Linked DNA regions of Homo sapiens. The protein of the gene in region 1 interacts with the protein of each later gene in a pairwise test. Each region holds a gene or a part of one and is shown in the gene's direction. Other genes may lie near its edges. The genes, in order: WWOX, GNE, C11orf87, KIF1B, PAX9, ARRDC3 and PLEKHN1.

The links.
Region 2: the proteins of WWOX (region 1) and GNE interact in binary tests that used the Homo sapiens proteins (3 or more experiments, as listed by UniProt).
Region 3: the proteins of WWOX (region 1) and C11orf87 interact in binary tests that used the Homo sapiens proteins (3 or more experiments, as listed by UniProt).
Region 4: the proteins of WWOX (region 1) and KIF1B interact in binary tests that used the Homo sapiens proteins (3 or more experiments, as listed by UniProt).
Region 5: the proteins of WWOX (region 1) and PAX9 interact in binary tests that used the Homo sapiens proteins (3 or more experiments, as listed by UniProt).
Region 6: the proteins of WWOX (region 1) and ARRDC3 interact in binary tests that used the Homo sapiens proteins (3 or more experiments, as listed by UniProt).
Region 7: the proteins of WWOX (region 1) and PLEKHN1 interact in binary tests that used the Homo sapiens proteins (3 or more experiments, as listed by UniProt).

Annotation. Positions count from the first base shown.
Region 1 is NC_000016.10:78,113,154-78,116,653, forward strand, and holds part of WWOX (WW domain-containing oxidoreductase), read left to right. Parts: intron 1-1,822; coding exon 1,823-2,001; intron 2,002-3,500. UniProt on the Homo sapiens protein: Putative oxidoreductase. Acts as a tumor suppressor and plays a role in apoptosis. Required for normal bone development. May function synergistically with p53/TP53 to control genotoxic stress-induced cell death.
Region 2 is NC_000009.12:36,241,449-36,244,948, reverse strand, and holds part of GNE (bifunctional UDP-N-acetylglucosamine 2-epimerase/N-acetylmannosamine kinase), read left to right. Parts: intron 1-3,500. UniProt on the Homo sapiens protein: Bifunctional enzyme that possesses both UDP-N-acetylglucosamine 2-epimerase and N-acetylmannosamine kinase activities, and serves as the initiator of the biosynthetic pathway leading to the production of N-acetylneuraminic acid (NeuAc), a critical precursor in the synthesis of sialic acids.
Region 3 is NC_000011.10:109,421,032-109,424,989, forward strand, and holds the start of C11orf87 (uncharacterized protein C11orf87 precursor), read left to right. Parts: upstream 1-1,158; 5' UTR 1,159-1,232; intron 1,233-1,406; exon of another isoform or gene 1,407-1,536; intron 1,537-1,747; exon of another isoform or gene 1,748-1,836; coding exon of another isoform or gene 1,837-2,018; intron 2,019-2,343; coding exon of another isoform or gene 2,344-2,602; coding exon 2,603-3,196; 3' UTR 3,197-3,958.
Region 4 is NC_000001.11:10,374,570-10,378,069, forward strand, and holds part of KIF1B (kinesin-like protein KIF1B), read left to right. Parts: intron 1-284; coding exon 285-477; intron 478-685; coding exon 686-804; intron 805-1,975; coding exon 1,976-2,018; 3' UTR 2,019-3,500. UniProt on the Homo sapiens protein: Has a plus-end-directed microtubule motor activity and functions as a motor for transport of vesicles and organelles along microtubules.
Region 5 is NC_000014.9:36,671,860-36,675,359, forward strand, and holds part of PAX9 (paired box protein Pax-9), read left to right. Parts: intron 1-3,500. UniProt on the Homo sapiens protein: Transcription factor required for normal development of thymus, parathyroid glands, ultimobranchial bodies, teeth, skeletal elements of skull and larynx as well as distal limbs.
Region 6 is NC_000005.10:91,376,818-91,380,317, reverse strand, and holds part of ARRDC3 (arrestin domain-containing protein 3), read left to right. Parts: intron 1-220; exon of another isoform or gene 221-870; intron 871-1,542; coding exon 1,543-1,624; intron 1,625-3,500. UniProt on the Homo sapiens protein: Adapter protein that plays a role in regulating cell-surface expression of adrenergic receptors and probably also other G protein-coupled receptors.
Region 7 is NC_000001.11:965,056-969,281, forward strand, and holds the start of PLEKHN1 (pleckstrin homology domain-containing family N member 1), read left to right. Parts: upstream 1-1,426; 5' UTR 1,427-1,476; coding exon 1,477-1,559; intron 1,560-1,648; coding exon 1,649-1,748; intron 1,749-4,226. Other genes in the region: KLHL17 (kelch-like protein 17), read left to right, coding at 1-136. UniProt on the Homo sapiens protein: Controls the stability of the leptin mRNA harboring an AU-rich element (ARE) in its 3' UTR, in cooperation with the RNA stabilizer ELAVL1.

The DNA of each region.
Region 1 (3,500 bases):
TAATATCACCTGGGAATTCAATAAAAATGTACATTCCCAGGCCCCCACCCCAGACCTACTGAATCAGCACTGGGGTGGGGCTTGCAATCTGCGCTCTAATAGTCATCCAGGGGATCCTGATGTTCCCTAGCTTGAGAGCCTCCCGTCTAGAGCAGGGGCTGTCTCCTTTGCCTGTAAAGGGCTAGATAATATGTTTTAGGATTTGCAGGGCATATGGTTTCTGTTGCAATGATTCAACTCTGCCTTTGTAGTGCTAAAGCAGCTATACACAATATACAAGTGATGGGCGTTGTTGTGTTCCAATAAAACTTTATTTACAGAAACAGGCAGTGGGCCAGATTTGGCCAGCTCCTGGTCTAATCTAGAGGAGTAAGCAAGGGCTTTGGGGGGAACCTGGAAATTGGCTCCCCTGGCTAGTTCTCACTTTTCTGAGCCTGTTGCAGTGGGGTGCTGGTAAATGTTTAGCACCAGGTCTTCAGGGGGAAAAAAGCCACTGTTTGTTTCCACAGTATAAATACTTTGGCCATAGCTGATTTCATGCTGCCAAGGTGAAGTGAGGAATTGGGAAGAGATAGTCACGTTTGGCTCTTGTAAGCCAGTTTGAGCCAGTCTAGCATAGAACTGCTCTGTTGTGTGTGTATAATATTGGGGTCACAAATTAAGGTTGTTATAAATAGAATGAGGATGAGGATGGTAATAATTAGAATAAAGGTTGGATTATTACTCTTGAGTCTTGGTACTTATAGGGAGATGAGTATATATTTTAAACTAATTTTACACACACATACTTTTAAAATATGAAATTTCATCTATATTTAGAGGCTTCTTAATAGTTTTTAAGATATTCTGAGGTCTTTATCTCATATCCCAAGAATACATTTAAGATATAAAAAGTAAATTCTATTATAAGGAGTACTCTTTTCATCCATATGTGCCTTTTTTTTTTTTTTTTTTTTAATGGTTACCCAGGGTCTTGGTCTGTCACCCAGGCTAGAGTGCAGTGGCACAATCATGGCTCACTGCAGCTTTGATCTCTTAGGCTCACGTGATCATCCTCCTACCTCAGCCTCCCAAGTAGCTGCGACTACAGGCGTGTGCTATCACACTTGAAATTTTGTTTAGTGTTTGTAGAGATGAGGTCTAACTATGTTGCCCAGGCTGGTCTTGAACTCCTGGGCTCAAGTGGTCCTCTTGCCTTGGCCTCCCAAATTGCCGAGATTACAGGCGTGAGCCACTGTGCCCAGCCTCCAGTATATTTTAATACCATTTCTACAAGATTTAGATCAATTCCAAATCAAAATGAGTGCTCGTAGGAGGTATGAGTGCAGAGTCTTAAAATGAAAATCGTTAGAATTTTGGTAGTTGGCAGGTTTCTTATTTACAACTAAGACTTTATCATTTTGAGTTTTCTACTTCTCTACGTCTTTAGGCCCTTGCACAGGGCTAAGAGATTTAATTGAAATCTACTGAAAAGAGTGGCTGACAGATCTTATAGCTACATTTACATGAATTACATAAAAGCCCAAAACCTTCTCAAGAAGCCTTTTTTGAGATCTAAGGATACATGGCAATAGTTATTGTATGTTACAGCGTATGTTATAGGCAGTTCTGAAGGAAAGGATTCGATGACTATCTTTTTTTGGCACAAATGTGATCCTTCTGGAGGCCAGAAGATAGATTCAGTGGGCCCCAGTTCTTTCAGGTTTAAGGAATAAGCATTTTGGTCTATGAAAAATGGGGTTTTCCTAAAGTATAAGATTGTCTTATATTTATAAATGCCTGTGTTCATTGCTGTGGGTTCACTGCTTTCTCTTTTGGGCAGCCATATAAATAAAAGAACCACCTACTTGGACCCAAGACTGGCGTTTACTGTGGATGATAATCCGACCAAGCCAACCACCCGGCAAAGATACGACGGCAGCACCACTGCCATGGAAATTCTCCAGGGCCGGGATTTCACTGGCAAAGTGGTTGTGGTCACTGGAGCTAATTCAGGAATAGGTAGGCTCTTCACTTAGTTATTTATCTTTGGGACTGCTATAATGAGATCCACTTAGATCTAGCTATAATGGAATTTTGTTTAGTGGTTCTCTGATTTAAACATGACTTTTATCCTTTTCAGATATCGTTTCATTAACATCACTACCTCTTTTTAAATCCTAATGTTGTCATGGAAGCCTGTGTAGGGGCTGACCTTGAAGTCTCTGAAAGCTGAACACTCAGCAAAAGACTGTGGCTATTTTGGTATTCAGGGATGAGAGACAACAGGCTCCGTCTAAGAGTTTTTGACCTGGTCTGCATGGTGTATGGGCATATTCCAATTACCTGGGTTATTCAAACCAAAATTGATTGGTAATAGAATACGGGGAACAACAAGGTATTATGTCTTTGGAACAAAGGATACTACAGGTTTCGACTGGTCACTGAGCATATCATTTTCTTTTGGGCACAGGATCTTATTTCTCTATAAAATTGGAGAATGAGTTCCTGTCTTCACCTCTTAATTGCCAATGTTTACCCACAGGGACTATCATGGGTAGATGGCTCAAGAGGGTATCCTTGCTTCAATATGATGGGCCATTAAGGAGACAGGAGCAAGGCGGGAGCAAACCATAACTCTTCATAGGATTTTATTCTGATTTTGCTTTGATCTATTTACATAAGTATCTGAATCAGTGAGAACCACCTGCTTTGAGTTTAGATATGCATCTTCAGATTTGTCGACATATGAAACGTTGCATTTGGCTGTCTTCTGTCAAGTTCTCTCTGTCCTTTTGGTCCCCCGCAGCCCTCACACGGCCCCCTTGATGCCCTCCTCTACTCATTTGTTTCTCTTTCCTAATTTTGTTTTTATTTTTATTTTTTGTGGGTATATAAAGGTGTCTATATTTATGGGGTTCATGAGATGTTTTGATACAGGGATGCAATGTGAAATAGTCACATCATGGAGAATGGGGTATCCATCCCCTCAAGAATTTATCCTTTGAGTGATAAACAATTCAGTTATACCCTTTTAGATATTTTACAATGTGCAATTAAGTTATTATTAACTATAATCAACTTGTTGTGCTATCAAATAGTAGGTCTTATTCTTTCTTTCTATCTTTTTTGTACCCATTAACCATCTGCACTTCTTTCTTAATTTTGAACAATTCCTTGAAGCTGCAGAAATATTTTCTAGCATGATTAGGGAGGCACAGGAGGTAAAAATACATTGTTCAAGGGTCAATTATTGTGTTGTACAAGGTGTGAAATCTACCAGGTTGCCATCCGAGTGGAGAATTTTTTTACTGTACTTGCCTATGAAGGTAAAGAAGCAAATGGAAATTTTTTTTTAAGAATTGAAAGGATTTTATTTCAAATCAACTCTCATACCTCATCCTGGGCTCCAAATATGTTCAATCCACTTGTCTGAACTTCTGCATTGGAGTAAATTTTATATAATTGTCATTGAAGTCAAAACTGATGGCGTAATATTTAAAACAATGGCTGGATCCCCA
Region 2 (3,500 bases), on another chromosome or scaffold:
TTTTTTTTTGAGATGGAGTCTTACTCTGTTGCCTAGCCTGTAGTGCAGTGGCTCAGTCTCGGCTCACTGCAACCTCCACTTCCCGGGTTCAAGCGATTCTCCTGCCTCAGCCTCCTGAGTAGCTGGGGTTACAGGCGCACACCACCACACCTGGCTAATTTTTTTTTGTATTTTTAGTAGAGACGGGGTTTCACTATGTTGGTCAGGCTGGTCTCAAACTCCTGACCTCATAATCCGCCCACCTCGGCCTCCCAAAGTGCTGAGATTACAGGCATGAGCCACCGCGCCTGGCTCATTTTTATTTTTAATGCTTTTCTTATAGAATTGTTGGAATACTCAGATTATGAATGTTGGAAGCAGTAAGCCATAAGTACTTATTAATATAAGGGATTATGATGATTATTAAAAAGCAAAAGTCATAGTTGTAGCCTTAGAGTATATCTTTGTAAATAAGCCCTATGTTCCAAAATTTTTATTGTTCAGTGCTCTAGCTTCCTAGAAATTATCTTTTGCTAATCAGAGGTAAAAAAATCCAAGTTTACAAACAGAATGTCAGTTGGTTAATTTATAGTAAGAGTACTACCTAGGGGACAAATTAGGACTAATAATCTATTTAGGACCTTTCATTTCTAAGAGGCAGATCTATTGAATTATAAAATTAATGAACAGAAAATTGATTTGGTTGGGTCAGGTATGGTGGCTCACCCTGTAATCCCAGCACTTTGGGAGGCTGAAGTGGGAGTATTGCTTGAGCCTAGGAGTTACAAGGCCAGCCTGGGCAACATAGCAAGACGCTGTCTCTACAAAAAATAAGAAAATTAGCTGGGCGTGGTGCTGTGTGCATGTAGTCCTAGTTACCTGGGAGGCTGGGATGGGAGGGTCACTTGAGCCTGAGTAGTTGAGGCTACAGTGATCTGTGATTACACTGCTGCACTCTAGCCTGGGTGACAGAGTAAGACCCTGTCTCAAACAAAACAAAACAAAAAAAAACAAAAAACAATAACAAAAAAAAAACACAGAAAGAAAAAGAAAATTGAATAAGCAAAGAGATTTTGTATATTTTTAATCTAGATTACATTACATCAGGAAAGGAATTGGGCTTTCCTGCTATATAACGTACTCCATTCTACATATTTCTGTTGTTCAGTCTGGAGTGCAGTGGTGCAGTCTTGTCCTCCTGGGCTCAAGTGATCCTACCACCTCAGCCTCCTGAGTAGCTGGGACTACAGGCATGTACCACCATGCCCAGCTAATTTTTAAAATTTTTTTGTAGAGATGGGGTCTCACTATTTTGCCCAGGCTAGTCATGAATTCCTAGGCTCAAGCAATCCTCCTGCCTCGGCCTCCCAAACTGCTGGGTTTATAGGCATGAGCCACCGCACCTGGCCCATTCTAAATATTTCTTATGCTTGGACAGATTTGTAATTATCAAGGGATCGTCTAGATAATGCTGGTGGAACAACCTTCTGTCTCTTCAGTCTCTCCTTTTAGTATGCTTCCGATGAAACACTCTTGGATTCTGTTCTAATTATACCATTAGCTCTCTAGGTATTCTGGAAAACTTGTATCACTGAAAAACTTGTAATGAATAGAAAATAATAATGTGCCAGATGTGGTGGCACATGCCTGTAATCTCTGTACTTTGAGAGGCCAAAGTGGGCAGATCACTTGAGCCTAGGGGTTTGAGAACAGCCTGGGCAACGTGGTGAAACTCTGTCTTTACAAAAAATACAAAAATCAGCCGGGTGTGATGGTGTGTGCCTGTAGTCCCAGCTACTCCGGAGGCTGAAGTGGGAGGATTGCTTGAGTCTGGGAGTTCAAGACTGAAGTGAGCCATGATTGTGCCACTGCACTCCAGCCTCGGTGACAGAATAAGACCCTGTCTCAAAAAAACAAAACACTAGTTTTGGCCAGGTGCCAGTGGCTCATGCCTGTGACCCTAGCACTTTGGGAGGCCCAGGCAGGTGGATCACTTGAGGTCAGGAGTTGGAGACCAGCCTGGCCAACATGGTGAAACCCCATTTCTAGTAAAAATACAAAAATTAGCCAGGTGTGCTGGCACATGCCTGTACTCCCAGCTACTCAGGAGGCTGAGGCAGGAGAATTGCTTGAACCCAGGGAGGTTGCTGTGAGCCGAGATTGCACCACTGCACTCCACACTCCAGCCTGGGTGAAGAAGCGAGACTCCATCTCAAAAAAAAAAAAAAAAAAAAAAACAAGCATAAAACCCAGGCCAGATGCGGTGGCTCACACCTGTAATCCCAGCACTTTGGGAGGCCACGGCGGGCAGATCATGAGGTCAAGAGATTGAGACCATCCTGGCCAACATGGTGAAACCCCATCTCTACTAAAAATACAAAAATTAGCTGAGCATGGTGGCGCACACCTGTAGTCCCAGGTACTTGGGAGGCTGAGGCAGAAGAATTGCATGAAACCCAGGAGGCGGAGGCTGCAGTGAGCCGAGATCGCGCCACTGCACTCCAATCTGGCAACAGAGCGAGACTCCGTCTCAAAACAAAAAACAGCAAATAACCATTAGAAAGCAGAATGTAGCAAAATTGAATTGTACTTGTAGGGCTTAAAGTCCTATTTGGGACAATTTAAGCAGTTCTTTATGGAAAGAAGGACAACAGAACAGCTAAAATTGCTTTTTTTTTTTTTGGTCTTTAAACCAGTGAAAAAGAAAACTCAAGACAATGAGGCAGAGCCATCCACCACTGGGCAGTAATACATTTTATATAAAACCTGTTCCTGCTTCTTGATATGCAACTTCTTTTTTTTTTTCTTTTTTTTGAGACAGAGTCTTGCTCTGTTGCCAAGGCTGGAGTTCTGTCACCTAGGCTGGAGTGCATTAGCGCAGTCTCGACTCACTGCAACCTCTGCCTCCCAGGTTTAAGCAATACTCCTGCCTCAGCCTCCTGAGTAGCTGGGACTACAGGCGCACACCACCACACCTGGCTAATTTTTGTATTTTTAGTAGAGATGGGGCTTCATCATGTTCGCCAAGTTCGTCTCGAACTCCTGACCTCAGGTGATCCGCCCTCCTCAGCCCTCCAAACTGCTGGGATTATAGGCATGAGCTACCGCACCTGGCCTTAATATGGAACTTCTCATGCTATCACTCTGCTTACAGGAAGATAGGGTTGGGTAGGCCATATATAACATTGCAGCTTTGTAACCAGAGTGTTAATATATAACAATCTTAATTTTAAAATTAGCAATGTTAAAAAGGCATGTTAAATTCCTAATAATGAAAGGCATATCACAGTAAATATAGGACTTTACAACAGAAAACAAAATGCCTTTATGGAAAGGATTTATGAAAGGGCTGAGGCTGCTGAATTATGGATAGATACAAAGACTGGTAATAATATCAGAAGTGCCAGGTGGAGAAGCAGGTGCAAACTTTGTATGAAATGTATTCTTGCCAGGGATGAGTTGCTCTGGCTCATTGTCTTGCGTTTTACTTTTCCCTGGTCTAAAAAGACTTCTAGTTTTTG
Region 3 (3,958 bases), on another chromosome or scaffold:
CAAAGATAGAAAAGAAGACAGGGAGCAAAGAAGAAAACGCACGTTTAGTAAGACACCTGAGTGCCTTCAAAGACCATGCAATGTCTTTAGGTACTGTTCCCAGCTAGCTTCTCCAACAGAAAAATGAGCATACTCCATTTCAAAGCTGGATTCTGTAACCAAATGCACTATTCATATTTTTCCAAGGCTCCTAAACCAATAGTTAACTAGTCTCTTCCAAGATTTAGGGAGGCTGTTGAATTCTTTTCTGGAAGTTCTATGTATTTTGCTAAAAGTTGTGCTCCAAACACTTTACCAAGAATTAGGGTCAATGAAGGGGTACTTTGTGCAAGCTACAAATACTTGGAATTTTCATAAGGCAGTTCATTTCTGCCTTCCTGTGAATAATTTCATATTTCTTCCTTGTAAGACTAGGGTTTGTGTGCTCATGAGTGTCTAGATTGTCAGAATAGAAGGAGTGTTTAATACATTGAGTGGGTCTGGGGCCTGGAGATGAAGATGTGAGGGATGCAAGAAGGAGGATCTTGAATCAGATGGAGCGAAAGATAACTTGGAAACTCCAGTGGAGAAAAATGGCTAATTTGGATTGTTTAATTTGTTCAGGTTTGTGTTTTGGGTTCTGTCACACTTATGTTGAGAAACGTCCCTGCCATCTCTCTAATGCACGCAGTTTATGTTCAGAAACGGGCAGCACAGAGAGGAATTAGCGGTGGGGGAAATTTTCATCACCACCGGTGATGTGTGCACCGATGGTAGATGGCTATCCAGAGTGTAAAAATGTGATTCTGGGACCAAAGGGTCAGCTCTAGAACGAAATCAGACAGCTGGAGAACTGAAGATTCAACTCTTCCTAGGCAAGAGAGTGAGAAAGGTGGGTTGCTTGCAGGGTGGAGGTAGGGGTTGCTCCTCCTAGTTCCTGGGCTGGAGAAGGGCAGGGAACTGGGAAGTGTGTGTCAGAGGCTCGCTATGCTAGGACAAGGTGTTGGGGTACTAGGGTGGGTGGGGGCCTGAGGGGTGGCTTGGAGCCCTGGCGGTGGCTGCCTGACGTCACCGGCCTCTCTGGCAATAGGCTGCGAGCTCAGCTCCCTGAAGCGGCGGCGAAGGCGGCGGCGGCGGCGGCGGCGGCGGCAGCAGCGCGGCTCGGTCTCTGGTCCATTCACTCCACGCTTTCTGCAGCCGCCACTGCAGCCGCGCGGCGGGGGCTCCCTCCTTGCAGCCAGCCGGCGGTCCAGGTAAGAGACAAGGTGTGAGTAAAGGCTTCTGATGGCCGGGTGGCCTGACGGCCAGGTGCGAGTGGGGAGGACAGCTCACGCGGCCTGAGCAGCCACCCCTGGCCATAGCTCCAGCCCCCGCCCCTGCCCCCGGCCCCTGCCCTGGCTTGCTTGCGCGCTACCTCGCTACTCCGCAGTGCAACAGTTTGCAGCTGCCTCTTGGGAGCAGCAAGGAGGCTCTCCTGTGCGCTGCGGGTCTACCGGCTCCAGTATGCCGGAAAAGCCTCGGGGCCTTTGGGCTGGGTCTGGGAAGGACAGAAAGAAGGTCCCGTTCCCCAAACTTTGCAGGCGGGAACCCTCCCCTTTCCATTCCAGCTCCTCTAGAAAGAAGCAGGCTACTGCCAAGTTGGGGGCACAGGGAAATGGGGAGGAGGGGGCCGTTTGTGGGAATGTGTCAGCTGAGAAAGATGCTTCAGCTGCTTTTTTTTTTTTTTTTTTTTTTTTTTGGAGAGGGGAGAATACCAGGGAAGAAGGCTGGAGAAGAGATGGAGCGCGTTCCTGCGCGTCAGCCGCGGTCGCGGACAGAGGCAGAGTGGGATGTGGTGCCAGGGGTATCCCCCTGGGAATGGGACCCAAGGGATCTGACGCTGTCCAGGGAGGGCGAGTCTGGACGGGGAGGGAAAGGAAGGGAGGACTGCGTACCCGGAGCCCGCGCGGCGGCCCGGAGTGGGTGCTGGGAAGGGTAGGATCCAGGCGAAGACATCAACCGAGAGGGCGCAGAAAAGAGGAGAGCCGGCGCTCTGGGAAGTAGGGACTTCAACCAAAGCGGCTGCGTGTCTGTTGCAATTATAAAGTTGTGAAGGGCGGAAGGGAGGCTGCCTTATCTGCTGAGTAATCTGCACCTCCGCGGTGCCGGCGCAGACCCCATCCTGTCGAGTGGCATGAGCAGGCTGCTGGTGGCTCTGGTGCACGGCCACGGGCCGGCAGGCTGGGGTCCGCTGACCGAAAATACAGGCAGCGCCCAGCTCAGGCAGTGTGCCCAGAGGGCCGCTTTGCGGTGGTGGTTGATCTTTCCCGACAGCACTCCCCTGGGCAGCGGCCGAGATTCTAACTAAGCTTTGTGTCTTTGCAGCCTGGTGCCTCTGCAAAGGAAAGGGGAGCGTGGAGACGTGTTCGAGGTGGTATCGGCGAGGATCTCTCGGGCGCCGCTCACTCCTTGGTCGCCTTGCTTGCCAGCAGTTGCTCCCTTAGTCCTTGGCTCGCTCGCACACCCCCTCCCGCTACAGGGAGCAGTTTTGGGTGGCGTGGGCTCCGTCCTCTTCTTGGCTGGTAGGAACGGTGTGCCCAAGAGGGGAAGCCTAGTGGGCCTGGCCCCTCCCAGCCCCGCGCCAATGAGTGCCAGGGCGCCGAAGGAGCTGAGGCTGGCGTTGCCGCCGTGTCTCCTCAACCGGACCTTTGCTTCCCCCAACGCCAGCGGCAGCGGCAACACGGGTGCCCGCGGCCCAGGCGCAGTAGGCAGCGGCACCTGCATCACGCAGGTGGGACAGCAGCTCTTCCAGTCCTTCTCCTCCACGCTGGTGCTGATTGTCCTGGTTACCCTCATCTTCTGCCTCATCGTGCTGTCCCTCTCCACTTTCCACATCCACAAGCGTAGGATGAAGAAGCGGAAGATGCAGAGGGCTCAGGAGGAATATGAGCGGGATCACTGCAGCGGCAGCCGCGGTGGCGGGGGGCTGCCCCGACCTGGCAGGCAGGCCCCAACCCACGCAAAGGAAACCCGGCTGGAGAGGCAGCCCCGGGACTCTCCCTTCTGCGCCCCTTCCAACGCCTCGTCGTTGTCCTCTTCGTCCCCTGGCCTCCCGTGCCAGGGTCCCTGTGCTCCTCCGCCTCCACCGCCAGCCTCCAGTCCCCAAGGAGCACACGCAGCTTCCTCCTGTTTGGACACAGCTGGCGAGGGCCTTTTGCAAACGGTGGTACTGTCCTGATCGTCTAGCCCCTCTCGTTCCCCGTCCTCGTTTCCAGCATCTTTGCCACCCTTGCTTTTTTCCTTCTTCCTTCCTTTTCCATTTTCCTCTGGCCCCTCTTTCCTCTTCCTGGTTTCCTTACCTGCCCTCCCCTTACTCTTGTTTCTCCTCCGCCGAGGCACTGTGCGGTATTTGTAAATATTGGGCGAGGAAAGTCTCGGAAGAAGAAATAACGCTGATAATAATACTTTATTAATATTTATAGTAATTATTATAATACTAATAACACAATCCAAGCGCATGACAAATCACATAATTTCTAACTGTCAATGGAGGATGCATCTTCCCATTCCACCCCGCGCTCCCCTCAATTAGGAGGAGAAACCGCACAAGCTACCAAATATATAAAAGGCATTGATTCCCGGAGCAAAGGGAGGGGAGGGGGCCCGGTAATGTACATAGCTGTCAAGTTAAGATTTAGTTTCCTTCCTTCCCCTCTGACCCCTAAGCTTTCACTTTTCCTTTAGCTTCCCTTTCCTCCCCATTCCCACCCTCAGCCGGGCTCAGGCAATAGTATATTATAAAGAAAATGTCTACATTAAGCACCAGGACTGCAAGAGGCCATAGAGAATAGTCCCCGGAAAGTGTTTATGACAGGTACCCCTCGCCAGTCCGCCCATTTCTCACCCTTTGGTTAACCATTACATTTTCCAGGACAGAGCATTTAATTTACTTTTTAAAATGACCCTCGCTGGCCGAGCATAAGTACGTTAAAATCTTTAA
Region 4 (3,500 bases), on another chromosome or scaffold:
ATCTGTACTGTAGTCTGATGCAAGTTGAGTCTGGGGTGAGAGGGCCAGCCTGGGTTTCTCCAGTTGGGTCTCATAATGCATCTGCACCCTGGCGCAGCATGTTGCCATGGCACGGTTTCGCTTTTGCCGTATTACTTTGGCAGATAAGATTCTAGGCCAAATAGGTCATTTGCCTGTTTCATCGAATCTAAGGACTTGGCCTAAGTGTGGCGTATTTTGATGGTCCTCAGCACGATTATTTTCTTTTTGTGAGAAACTAACTTTTGTCATATTGTCGTTTTTAGCTCAGTGGTCTCTAAGAAAGGATACCTTCATTTCAAGGAGCCTCTTTACAGTAACTGGGCTAAACATTTTGTTGTCGTCCGTCGGCCTTATGTCTTCATCTATAACAGTGACAAAGACCCTGTGGAGCGTGGAATCATTAACCTGTCCACAGCACAGGTGGAGTACAGTGAGGACCAGCAGGCCATGGTGAAGGTCCGTCCTGCCCTGCCTTGGTTTCTTATTGCCACGTGTGCCCTTCTCTTTTGATTTCTGCACTCTCTGTTACGTGGTGTGAAATTTCCCTATTCTCTCTGGTTTTGAACTTCCTTTGTGAAGTGCTATATGCCTTGGGAATATGGCAAGGCAGTCCCCATTGCTGTCTCTGTAGTAACTTTCTTGTCTACCTGCATTTTTCTTTCAGACACCAAACACCTTTGCTGTCTGCACAAAGCACCGTGGGGTCCTTTTGCAGGCCCTCAATGACAAAGACATGAACGACTGGTTGTATGCCTTCAACCCACTTCTAGCTGGCACAATACGGTAAGAAGTTTTGTTGTTGTTGTTGTTGTTTTTGAGACGGAGTCTCACTTTTTCTCCCTGAAGTGCAGTGGCTTGGTCTTGGCTCACTGCAACCTCCGCCCCCTGGTTCAAGCGATTCTCCTGACTCAGCCTCCCCAGTAGCTGAGACTACAGGCACGTGCCACCATTGCCTGGCTAATTTTCGTATTTTTTGTAGAGACGGGGTTTTACCACAATGGCCAGGCTGGTCTCAAACTCCTGACCTCAAGTAATCCACCCACCTCAGCCTCCCAAAGTGCTGGGATTACAGGCCTGAGCCACTGCACCCAGCCTAGAAGTTGTTCTGTGTTTTCTTTCTCTCTTTGGCTTTTGGCTTCAGGAATATCAGGATAAATAGGAAAGGAAGAATTTTTCTTTTCTTTTTTCTTTTCTTGTTTTTTTTTTTTTTTTTTTTTTTTGAGATGGAGTTTTTGCTCTTGTGTGGCCCAGGCTGGAGTGCAGTGGCATGATATCGGCTCACCGCAACCTCCACCTCCCAGGTTCAAGCCATTCTCCTGCCTCAGTCTCCTGAGTAGCTAGGATTACAGGTGCCCGCCACCACACCCAGCTAATTTTTTTTTTTGTATTTTTAGTAGAGATGGGGTTTCACCATGTTGGCCAGGCTGGTCTTGAACTCCTGACCTCAGGTGATCCACCCTCCTCGGCCTCCCAAAGTGCTGGGATTACAAGCGTGAGCCACCACATCTGGCTTGAAAGGAAGTATTTTTCAAAATAAATTTAAAAGAGAGGAAGGACAGGAGTGTAAATTGGTTGTGGGGTGGTAATGAGGCCTCTGCATCTTGTAAGGCATTGTCATGTTCTGAACCACCAGGGATACTCTGGTCACACATGTGCACCAATTATTTTCCTTCTTTGTCTTTTTGTTCTCAAGAGTTCTAAAGATGGGGCTCAGGGGAGAGAGTAAAGGGAGGACAGTGAGAACCTTAATGGTCTCCCAACCTCCAGCCCTGTGATTCAGCCTCACGTTCTGAGGGCTTGTGTCACAGGGTCCCGGAGTAGACGGCTTAGAGGACTAGGCCTGCGGTGCCAAATAGGAAGATGCTCCAGGAGGGAGCCTCAGAGGGAGAGGACTGTGAGGGGACAAGACTTGTACCCAGACTTCTAATCCTACCTCCCCGTTTGTCCCCCATAGGTCAAAGCTTTCCCGCAGATGCCCGAGCCAGTCGAAATACTAAGTGACTCTGCCGAGTGCCCTCACTCGCCTTCGAGAGATAAAGAAAGCGTTACCTCTCATTTCTCTTTGTGATTCTTGACGGTGACTCTTGTATGTAATCCTGTGGCTTAACTACTTCTCCCTCCTTGTCCAGCACTTTTCTAGCTCTCCCGTTCCCCATCTCCATTGCTCTGTACTCTTTTCTTTTTTCTTGTGCTGAGAATCTCGTTAGTAGCATGTGGCCTAACAAAAGGAAAAAATGTTTTTAAACACACACACACACACACACACACACACACACATACACAGACAAAAACACAAAAACTCTGAGGGGATCTGGTGAATCTCCAAATTATTGTGGGTGTACTTTGGCTTCCTTTTGTATGATAGGTCCCCATCATGACCACCTCTGATGTCTGTGCTGCTGTCACCAGGCACCTTTGTTTTTCAAGACAACATACTTTTTTTTTCTTTTCTCTGTTTGTGATATCACTTTAATTTTTCTTGGGTGGCTTAGAGACTAAGGGAGGAGACATCTGGCCTTTTTAGAACCTGAGAGGAAAAAAAGAGTCTTTTTTTCCCCTCTGTCTCTTTTTGCCATGGCTAATCCCTGCATTTCCATTCAGGGAAAAGGTGGTAGTGAGCATAGAACTGCAACAGTTATATTCTGAGTCAAAGTTGGGGCTTTTTACGGCATAATTATGGAATTTTTATTTACTGGTAGAGAGGAGACGAGAGGCTTTTTCAGTGGGCCTGGGACAGTGGCTGCTCTTGACTTTGTGTGAAGGGAAATGCCAAGGATGCTTCTGGTGGACTTCAGGGGACCCCAGGGTTTGGCCGTGGGCCGTGATGGCAGCAGGCGGTGGGATGCTTGTAGCTCCTCACAGCAGGATTCCTGCCCACTGTTTTTTCTCTGTTGGGAGGGAAGCTCTTTTCTAGGAGTGTCTCAGTTCTGCTTTTGGCATTAGTGATGGTGGTGGTACAGTTGGAATTAGTGCCATGTCATACACAAATGTTCCACAAGGCGGGAGTGTTTCACTTTCTGGTGATAAACTTGATGGTCATTGTTATGATTAAGATAATGCCGGGCAGGCCGGGCACAGTGGCTCACGCCTGTAATCCAAGCACTTGGGGAGGCCGAGGCGGGCAGATCACGAGATCAGGAGTTCAAGACCAGCCTGGCCAATATGATGAAACCCCGTCTCTACTAAAAATACAAAATTAGTCGGGTATGGTGGCACATGCCTGTAATTCCAGCTGCTTGGGAGCCTGAGGCAGGAGAACTGCTTGAACCCAGGAGGCAGAGGTTGCAGTGAGCCAAGATCGCGCTATTGCACTCCAGCCTGGGTGACAGAGCAAGACTCTGCCTCAGAAAAAAAAAAAAATAATAATGCTGGGTAGTGACCTTGTGATTGTTACAGCTCCCTTTGATCAAAGAAATATAGCTTTCAGGCATAAACCTGGAAGTCTCCCTCTGAATCCAGCAGTTGTTTTCATTGATGCT
Region 5 (3,500 bases), on another chromosome or scaffold:
CAGTGTGATGAAGTTGGTCTTTTCCTAAAAGTATTAAAACAAAGCAGTAACTTACTTTTTCTAGGGTATGCAATTTAGTCTATTTTGCTTTGTATTAGTAAATCTCCTTCTCAAATTTAGGTAGAAGATAGTTTGCTATAGAGAGCACCCTTGCACAGTTCTTTCAGGGGAAAGAATTCTCATGCCTTTCATGGAAGATCCACATGAGAAAGGAGTTGATGGATTGAAGTCTTATTTATGGAATCTTTAGGTAAAGTCATTTTCAAAAATGAGATTTCCATTACATGCCCATTGCTGGGGTTTCATTTGGAAAATTTGTTTACTCTTCCCTGGGGATTCCGTATGTTGGTTGATTTATAAATCATATTTACAATCCAATTAAATAGAGTAATTTAGCATGTTTGCTCCCACTATATTTATAGTGTAGATTTGGTAGTCTCTACTCAGCCTAACTAGCTTTTCAGATTAATTACATGCCCTTCACTGAAAACATTAAACCGATTTGGGACGTTTAAGTCATGTACTCTTTTACTGGAAAGAATAAACAAACATCAATGCTACCTGTAGTTGTTTTCCTTTGCGGTGGAAAATTTTACTTTTTCAGTGATTGCTTCATAAATAACAATTACTTGACCCAGTAGAGATTTATATCTTTTACTAATGTTATGTGTCAAAATTAATAGTGAGAAAATTGATGTGTTTATTGAGTCACTAAAATGAATAAATAATGAAGGTGGCAGGAGGCAGGTAAATTTTAAAGCACATTTACTTGCTCCTTTTTTTTCTAAATTTATAAATCTGAGCTTCAAAAGTAAAAAGTAAAATTAAGACAAAACTCTCCAGACCCCCAAGCTAGGGTCATAATTTAACCTGAGAGAAAACTAAGGGCTATTTTTATACTGTTTAAGTTTAAAGATTTATGTTTGTTTTTTTTTTTAAGCAAACGTTTTAGCCTCTCCTTGCCTTTTTCTTTTTTCTTTCTTTCTTTCTTCCTTTTTTTTTTTTTTTTTTTTTTTTTTTTTTGAGATGAAGTCTCACTCTTGTTGCCCAGGCTGGAGTGCAATGATGCGATCTCGGCTCACTGCAACTTCCGACTCCCGGGTTCAAGCAATTTTCCTGCCTCAGACTCCCAAGTAGCTGGGATTACAGGCACCTGCCACCACACCCGGCTAATTTTTGCGTTTTTAGTAGAGACGGGGTTTCACTATGTTGGCCAGGCTGGTCTTGAACTCCTGACCTCAGGCAATCCGCCCGCCTCAGCCTGCCAAAGTGCTGGGATTACAGGCGTGAGCCACCGTGCCCGGCCGCCTTTTTCTATGAGATGAAATCAACCATCTCCGAGCTTCTCTTCCTACCCTGTCTTTCTGCAGTACAAAGGGATTGCATCACTAAAATGATACTAAATAAATATTGTGGATTTAAGAGAACTTTGAAATATTTAGTACTAAGAATAATGACATAAAGCAAGTTTGTGCATTAAGTATGAGAAGTTGGACAAACATGGAAAAATTTGCTCATTTTTTTACACTTGATAAATGAATGTAATCATGGAATAAATAAGGCACTAGAAGTTAATACAGGCCTAAATCCAATGTCCTGCCTGCCCCTAAATTCCAGGAACATTATCTAAGATAAAAGTTCAATGCAGCATGTCTCTGAGGGCCATCTTCCAAGTGGGTCCATGTAAGGGGACCATAGACATTGCAACAAAACAACTGAAGAGTCCAAGTAAATGGGGCAGATCAATGAGCAAGAGTTCCAAGGGCAAAGGTGTAAGAAAAGGGAAGATGACTAAGCAAGGATTTCAGAGAGAACTGTAATTTTGAATGATAGATAAAATACAAAGAAAAAAGAATGGGTAGGAAAAATTTAGCTGTGATGAAAAATAGAACTCGCCAACAGTTCTGTTCTGCTAACTAGAACATTGTTTCTGCCATGTATAATATTAAATTTTTTAACTTTATGTCCCTATATGATGTTGGCCAAAGATTTTTATTATTTTAGAAGTAATTTTAATGTTAGCATTCTTATTTCATTATTCTTAGTTCACATTGGCATCAGTAGTATAAAACATTAGTCAATGCTGGAAATGAAAATATTAGTTAACACCACATACAGATGTGAACACCTTTCCATAACTGAATTGGATTTATTTCTTTCCAAACTCATTTATCATAGATTATTGGGACAATTCTAAATAAAAATGATTAAAACTATAATCTCTATGCAAAACTAGATTTTTTCCCCTGTAATTTGATAGTTCTCTATCTTGATACCCATCTCCTGAGAGCCTTAAAGTGTGTCTCCTTTGAGACATAATCAGCCATTCTCAAAAAGTGGAAGAAACTATTCTTTTTTTAGAAGGGATCTGACAATGAGAATCATGTTCTAGGAGAGAAAAGAATTTGTTACCAGATGTTATCTCAAAAGATGCACTAGTTTTAAATTAAATTGCATCTATCTTTTAAGTGTTCAGGAAAAACAGTATGATATGCTACAGAGGACCCTGCATTGGGCAGGGGTGATAAATTTTTTTAACACATGGCCACTGGCTTGCCAATTGGTTGAGGGTACATGGCTAAACCTCTTAATCTATATCCTTGTATAAAAAGAGGATAAGATTTCATTTGTATTCAACAGTTATGTGCGGTAGTTTCTTGATTTAAAAAATGCAGCAGCATCATTCTCTGGGACCCTTAAAATACACTTTAATTTCAGTTGAACATTGTGTTGTATTTGTGACACACTATCTTGTAATTATGATAAACTCAATCATTTATAATGAACTATATAATTCATTAATACTCATTACTCAGTAAAATATGTTGGATATTTCTTGGTGCCTGGGACATAGGACACACTTAAGAAACTTTAGCTTCCTTTCTCTTTCCCTATTTTCAAAGAACCAACATTGAAAAACACAACATGAGGTGTTTGTTCTTACAGAGCATAGACACAAGGCTAACCCCTCTAATATTTTTCTTTTTTTGTCAGAAATGCATGAGTAATGTTGTCATACCCACGTATGTATTCTATTCCATGTACATATTCATTTACTCTGCATTGAGAAAATAGTTTTTGAGACCGCACCACTGCATTCTCATAGATGTAGAAGTGAAAACAATAGCCCAAATAAATTAAATTAGAAAGTAATTCCTGTGTTGCAATTGAACGGGAAAAAGTACCTAGCTAACATACATCTGATTAACTTAATTCTAAGGATTAAATCAATTTTCCTCATAAAATTCTAGTATTTACATCGTATTTTCACTAGGAAATATATTGAAATGGTAGTTCATTCATGTAACTATCAGGACACAGCATCTACACTTTATTTCTAAAGAGTATAAAAATTGAGGGGAAAAAATTAGACTACTTGAAGAAGGATGCCCAGTGTTCATGCCAGAATCAGGATTAAAAATCAGGGTGTTTTTAGTGTTGTTAATAGTAACGATACCAACAATAATTCACTGGATGCCAAGACAGCACTGGTTTCTCGG
Region 6 (3,500 bases), on another chromosome or scaffold:
CCCGGCCAGCAGGCTAGGTTGCGCGGGCACGGGCGCGAGCGCCGCGCGACGTATGCCGTATGTATAGCGGGGCGCGCGGGCGGCAGCGGCGGCGGCGGCGGCGCGCGGGCAGGCCGGCTGGGATCTGCTCGCGCCGGTTTAGGCCGGTCCTCTCCTGCTCCGGTCTAGTTCTTGATTGACAGCCCGGCACTTGTTTACCACGGCGCGGCCGCCGCCGCTCGCTTCAATGAGACTGCTGAGCTGGCACAAAAAGGGAGCGAAGAGGGAAGAAAGGGAAAGGAAGGCGAACTTCGGGCGCCTTCGAGGGGAGCGAATTTAAATGGCCCCCAGCTCATCAGCTAGTTTTTGGTTCTGAAATCCGTTCAGGGGAATTTGCACAGGGGACGAGGAAAATTGTATGGAGACATAAGCGAATCACCATGATTTTTAAATGAAAGTATCGACGTATACATGCTTTTTTCCCCCTTTTTCTCGTTTAATATCAGGGAGGCATCACGTTTTTTGTGTATATCCAATACTTTGCTGAAGGAAAGTTAAATAATGTGCCAGTTTTTTCTACTCTGGGGGCTAATCGTAAAGGTTTCTACACCAAGAAAACTTTAAAAGATATTTCTGTAATTATTTAAAACGCTAAATAGGCACTTTAATGATCTAGAACCCCCTCCCATATTTTCGATTATATTTATTTTCATGCCACTTGAAAAAAAATAATTTCACCAAAAAAATTGGTTGTAAAATGAAAGGTCATCCCTTTTTTATAGAAACTGGAAACTATTAATAGTTAGACTTCATTTTTTTCAAGGATGTTGGAAAATATTGTTTCCTTATAAGCCGACACCACCTAAATGCGGTTCTTTGTAATTATCTAAGGTATAGTTTATGCAAGTTTTAGTCGTTGCTAGGACCAACTGAGTGTTGTGATCATTTTAGATCAATAAATAATTATTTTTAGTTCAATAAATAATTATTTTTAGTTATAAATCTGACATTAAAATCAATGTGTGGCTTTTTTTTTTTTTTTTTTTACTCCGTCTATTTGACAAGGTTTTCTAGTGGTTTTGGAGTATCTATTCTATTCACATCTGGTATTATTATTCCCTATAAACTGACATATTTTAAGAGGGTTGCATGAACAGTTTTTCTTTGATACATTATAGTCTTAATGTGATAAATTTAAGCAAACCGTTGGAGACAAAGGATAGCATTGTCTTACCATGATGTGAGACCCGAGCCTTTTGAGTATATATACTATTTTATAAACAGATGCTTTGCAGTTTGGGTCATTTTCCATTAGAAAAAATAAAAAGCCTGTGGGGTGTGAGTATTCATTATCCCCATTTTACAGATAAGGCAGCTGACGACAGGATTTTTATTTTGTCCAGAGGAAATGATGAAGTTAGAATTAGAACTCAGATCTCTCAGACTCCAAAGCTTGTTTTGTGGTCTTAATTGTTATGTAAGCATCTTTAAAGTTATGCCACCCTGCGGAGTATGTAAATGTTGAATAATAAATTCTTTGTTTTCTTTTTATGTTTGTTTTAGATGATGATAATTCCGAAGAAGGCTTCCACACTATTCATTCAGGAAGGCATGAATATGCATTCAGCTTCGAGCTTCCACAGACGTAAGTATTATAAATAATAGGCATTTTTATAGATACTTATGATCAGAGCATTATTTTAAAATTAAGTATTCTAAATTTAAACATTTTTAGTTGAAAAAAAAACCCTTTTCATTACTGAAACTTGCTAGAGGAAAACAATATATTAAACATAAGAAGCTATTTTTTAATCTAGCGTGGCAAAATTATAGAAAGCATACTCAATTTTCAGTATTCTTTCCTAAAGTTTATGAGGTTTTTAAAATAGGAATAGGGTTTCCTTTAACATGAGTGAATTGGAAGTTGCTAGTCGAATAATAACCACTTTATACTTAGTTTATTATCAATTATCATTATGAGAAAAGATAGACCCTATCAAGTCTTAGTAGCTTCAATTTATAAAAAATTCTATATTCTACTTTTTCTGCTAATACTAACCAATAGCAGTAAGTTTCGAAAATAAAAATAATTAGGAATATCCTAACTTTAGAAATGTTTTTCTTCTGATATGAACTTAATAGCTTCTGTACAAAGAACTATTGGGAAGGTCACACAAGAGATATGACCCAGGCTTAAAAGGAAACATGCATCAAGGATACATTAATATAAAACTTGGAATCTAGTAAGAAAGGAAAAAGGAAAGTGGTATATTCTTAAAGTAATGACAGATTGTTGGAAGAGATGATACAAACTTTTTAAAAAAAAATGCCTTTTAACAAATATTAAAACCTGCAAAATGGCACTTGTGGTGATTATTCTGGAGAATAAACAGATTACATAAGATTTTGTCAGGTGACAAATGTACATTAATTCTGCATTTGTTAATTCTAGTGCTTGAGATGTTATATATAGAGAGAGAAGTCATAAATGGTATTTTTTAGAAAATTCTATTTACTGTATTATTTGAGAATTTTATTTGGAATATAATGCCCTCATCTAATTTCTGAGAAAAATATTAAAGTCTGTTGATAGAATAAGGCCAATATGGGGCCTGAGTATTTTCAGCGTCATTTAATGTTAAAGTTCTATCCATAAACCAAAGTCATTTAACATAAATTTTGGATAACTATTAGCATACAGTTTAAGATTTTATTTCTCTGCTATACAAGTTAATGTGGGAGTCTAAAATGCAAAAAAAAAAAAAAATTATGAAAACACCAGTGTTTCTTATGCTAATCTAAGCTAGCACTCTTGTAAATAACTGAACATTGAGTATTTTACTAATGAAATTATGAAAAAGATACTGAACTTGCTAAAATAAAACCTTCCACAAGTAAAATCTGACAGAGTTAAAAAAAATTTTTTTTTATTCTCTTGACATAGATCAAGAGGACTATATCTTTTTCTTTTGAAGCCCGTAAAGTTAGAGAACAGCCAAACAAGAATTAGAACATGAGTAAACTGAGAGATACAAAAGTAGTTTTTCAGTAAACTTAGGAAATGTGAAATTTTTGAAACTATAATGACTATTCCAGGCCTTTTCTAGACCTTAGTTAGTTGCTATTAAAAGATGATAATTCCCGGCTAATGAGAAGTGGAGTACTATAGGGAATTTGGTCTGAATGTTTAACCAGTGTCTAGAATTTATCAGTAGAAATAGTTAAACCATTCTCAACTTTGTGTTTGAATTCTTGGCCTTTTCAAAAAATGCCCATTAAACTTTCATGATTTTGCCACCATCATTAAAAGTAGCCTCCTCTTAGTTTAAATGGATTGTATTCTTCTGGCTTTTTAAAGCAAAATTTTAAAGATATTTATTGTTTATTCTTAGTTGGAAATAGGAAGTTTTTTCCCCAGTGACTTATCCCTTTGGAAATTTTTTAAATTATATGTTTGATACCTCATTGGAACATAAACAATACAATATATTAACACTTCTATTCTGACCTACTGTGTAATT
Region 7 (4,226 bases), on another chromosome or scaffold:
CCCGAGGACCAACAAGTGGGTGGCCGCATCCTGCATGTTCACCCGGCGCAGCAGTGTGGGTGTGGCGGTGCTGGAGCTGCTCAATTTCCCGCCGCCATCCTCCCCGACGCTGTCCGTGTCCTCCACCAGCCTCTGACCCACCTACCACCAGAGGCCTGCAGCCTCCCACATGCCTTAAGGGGACCGTGGCCCCCACCAGGGACGTCCTGCGCCATCCGTTCACGTCTCTGCATCCATTCCTTCATGTCTTTATTTAGTTGTTTATTTATTTAGTTATTTATCTTATTTATTGAGGGGTGAGGAGTGCCACGGCTGCCCGTTTACACCTTTAGCGTCTGGTCCTCCTGCGTGTCCTCCCCTCCACTGCCTGCATGGGGGGCGCGGGGAGTGACCAGGCGGGGGCCTCACCGCCCCAGGGCCGTTGCCTGCTCAGACCTTGCAGGCTGTGGAGCAAGAGGCCCTGGGTCTCTCCAAGCAGCTGCAGACCCCAGCTCGAATTTTGCACATGGCGGGGTCCCGGGAAGGGTGGGGAGCAGTTGTCCTTCCTGTCGTCGTCTGCCGTGTGCCATCTTTCCTGGATCTTGTAGTGGGTGCACACGCGTGCACTGGGACCCCACACAGCAATACGAGTCCAACTTAATAAACACATTTCTGGGGTTCCTCAGGCTGAGCATCTCTCTCTGGCATGTGGGGCAGCTGCGCAACTTTGGGTCCTGTCTGGGGTCCAGGGTGAGGGGTGTGGGGGGGTGCCCTGAGATGCGCAGGCATCTGGGAGCTGCAAGGCAGAGCTGTGCGTCCAGGGAGGGTGGGGGCCGTGCAGTTCCTGTGGACCAGCGTCCCAGTGTGGGTGGCGTTTGCCTGGGCTGGGTACTGAGGCCGAGGTCCCCGCCACATCGTGGGCTCTGGGGTTAGGGCTGGGGAGGACAGCCTTGCCCCCGAGTGCGCTGACTGTCTTGGCCGTCTAGGGGGCATGTGGCCTCCCTGAGTCCCCTTAAGCCTTGGGGACCCTGACTCGGGTCTGTGGCGAGGGGGCCCAGGCAGGAGGGGAGGCTGCGGTGGCTTTGGCCGCCGTCTCCTGTGCTGGAACTCCTGCCTCAGCCCTCCCTGCAGTCACCGGTGACTCGGGCCGGCCAGAGTTTAGATGGAAACAGGATGTGTGGGCACGTTGTCCCGGGGGGCCTGGAAGGTCGCCCCGGGTTCACCAAGCCGGAGCACAAGCAGGTGGGGTACCTCTGCACACTGGAGGCCTCGTCTGGGCCAGAGGGGTGCTTGCCCCAAGGCTGGCCTCTCGAGTGGAGGGCCCAGGGCAGAGACCTGCACGGCTCAGGTAGGGGCCAGGCCTCTTCCAGAAAGGCTCCACCCTCGCCCAGGCCCTGGTGCCGGGCGGGACGTCCCGGAGCCCCGCCTGCCCGCGGGAGGCGGGGGCAGGAGGCTGTGGACAGGGACCCAGACTTGCCGACCTGTACGACTCTGGCCATGGGGAACAGCCACTGTGTCCCTCAGGCCCCCAGGAGGCTCCGGGCCTCCTTCTCCAGAAAGCCCTCGCTGAAGGGAAACAGGTGAGCGGGGCGTGGGTGCGGCCACCTGGGCGCAGGGCTCCCCCACCCGCTCCGGGGCCAAGCCACGAGACCCCTTGCCTTGTCCCCAGAGAGGACAGCGCGCGGATGTCGGCCGGCCTGCCGGGCCCCGAGGCTGCTCGAAGCGGGGACGCCGCCGCCAACAAGCTCTTCCACTACATCCCGGGCACGGTGAGCGCGGCGTGCACGGTGGCTGTGGTCTGGGAGCGTGGCTCTGCCCGCGCGTGTGTGCCGTGTGTCCGTGCAGCTCAGGGTCTTCCCCTCGCCCCCGGGGCGTTCAGACCCCGGTAGGTGAGGAGCCGACGCTGACTGCCCCGCCCTGGGGAGCTCATCCGGCCGAAAGTCTGAGCGGAGAGCGAAACCGCGACGCAGGACTGAGTCAGTCGGGAGAGAGCTGGGCGGGGCGGGCCGCGGGCGGGGCCTCCCGGGACCTCCTCCCGCAGGGGACCAGCGCACGTGTCTCTGTCGCTGCAGTGGGGCTTGGGGTCGTGCCGGCAGGTAGTGTCACTTGAGAGTAAGGGGCCTCAGATGAGCAGCGAGCCAGCCGGTCACCTACACCGGCCTTTCTCCCTGGGTGTCCCGCAGGAAGTTGCCGCTGGGTATGGCCGCCTGGTCCACAGCAATCCCTCTGTGCACGCGCCGGCCTCCTCCCAGCTTGCCAAGGCCATGCAGCAAGGAGGTGTCTCCCAAGCACACACTAGGCCACCTCTCCGTCAAAGGAGCAGAAGACCACCCCCATGCCCACCCCCCCCCCAGCCCCTGTGGGACTAAGGGTCTTCACAGGGTAGATCCCAGCCCCTTTCAGATGTGTCTGGTGCTGGGATGAGGGAACAGGACCAGGAACCTGGGCTTCAGGGCAGACAGGAACCCCCACTGCACCCCCGTCAGGCAGCCTGGATGGGTGGGCTCCGCTATGTGCAGGCCCTAGGAGCATCTGCGGGAGAGGACGCCTGCCCTGCACTCCTGGGTCCAGCAGCTGGCATGGCCGTGCAGACCCCTTTGCCAACATGCCCCCGCCAGGCAGGAAGCTCGTGCCATACCCTCTCCTGACCTCCAGAGTTTCAGGGCTCCCTGCAGACAAGTACTGGTTTCGGAAACCACGCTGCCTCAGAGGAGTGGGCAGGGAGAGGGAGCCGGGCTGGGTTAGGGGTGGGGTCCCTGTGGCTGCATCTCAGACACCACTCCCTCTGTCCAGGCCCAGGACATGCAGTGTGACCCTGGGGGGTCCTATGAGGTGTGGTGGGTGGCCGTAGTGGTCCTCCCTTGCCAGGACATGGTAGCCACAGAGGCAACAACCTGCTGAACCTCGGGAAATGGGGCTGGGGGAGGAGCTCTGGGCCAGTCCTAGAGCCAGTGCTCCGCGGCCCTGTACCTGGGCTCTGCACCCAGTGCTGTGAGCTGGCTCTACTACGGCTCCAAGCTGAGTCCTCCCCGGGGCCCCGAGGCTGAGCTGCGCTGCAGGGCCAGCTGTGTGGCCCTTCCTGGTCTGTGGCCTATTTTTCATGGGTGCCAACCCGGCATCAGTTCCCACGCTGGGTGTGGGTACAGGAGGCCCCACCCAGAGGCAGAAGGCCGGGAAAGCCATGCGTCTGTCTGTTCACATTCCTGGGCCTGCTCAGGGGCAGCTAAGCTTGGCCAGGGCACAGCAGCTCTGCAGGTAGCTCTCGCCAGCTCCTAGAAGGAGGAGGACACCTTCCCACTTGGCCCTGAGCCTGTGGATCACAGAGGTCTCCAGCCCCAGGTTCACACCCGTCCCTTTTCTGACTTCCAACCTGGTGATCAAAGCCTGCATTTGTAGAGGACTGTGTGTGCCAGGATTGACTACATGTGGCGTGGATGTGGAGTCCCCTCCCCTCTCAGCACATGCAGTGATACCCACAGCACATCCCAGGCCCTGTCTTAGGCTCTGGGGACACAGCAGTGAACGGAATAGACAACCCCTGTTCTGCTAGTGCTCCCATTCCCACGGCAGAGACACACGACGGGACAAATCAATAGATCCAGTGAGCGGGGTCAGGTCGGTGCTAAGGAGAAAAACAGAGGGGATGAGTGCAGAGGATCAGGGAAGGCTGGAATTTTAGAAAGGCTTTCAGAAAAGGAATTCTTGGAGCAGGTAATGTCTGAGCAAAGCTGCAAAGCGGGTAAGGAGGGGGGTCAGGACTGAGCGGTCCCCAAAGCAGGAACAGAACATGCAGCAGCCAGAGAGCATGGGTCTGATGTGAGGAGACAGTGAGGCCGGGGCAGCCACAGAGACCCCTCGGGGGAGACCCCTCGGGGCACTGCCAGGACCCCGTTGTCCCCTGAGTGAGGCATACGGAGCGGCCAACACACAGAGGATCGACCCCAGAAATCTCCTCACATATTTCAGGCTGGGGGCTGGAAATGGGCAACGGTGAGGACACTGACACCGAGGAGATTGGCAAACGTTACAAATCAGGGCATCGGTGTGTTTCTGTGTCTGTTTTTTGTAGAACCAGGTGTTAAGCATTTACCATACAATACTGCAGACGTGGGAGGGTTTTGAGTGTTACCCAGACACCCCCAAATTCTTCTAACAAGTCTTCAGAGGTTGAATAACCCAAGCCATGTTACACAGCTTAGGAAAGAATGAAGATGGGTTTAATCCACTGAGTCCAGATCTCACCATCT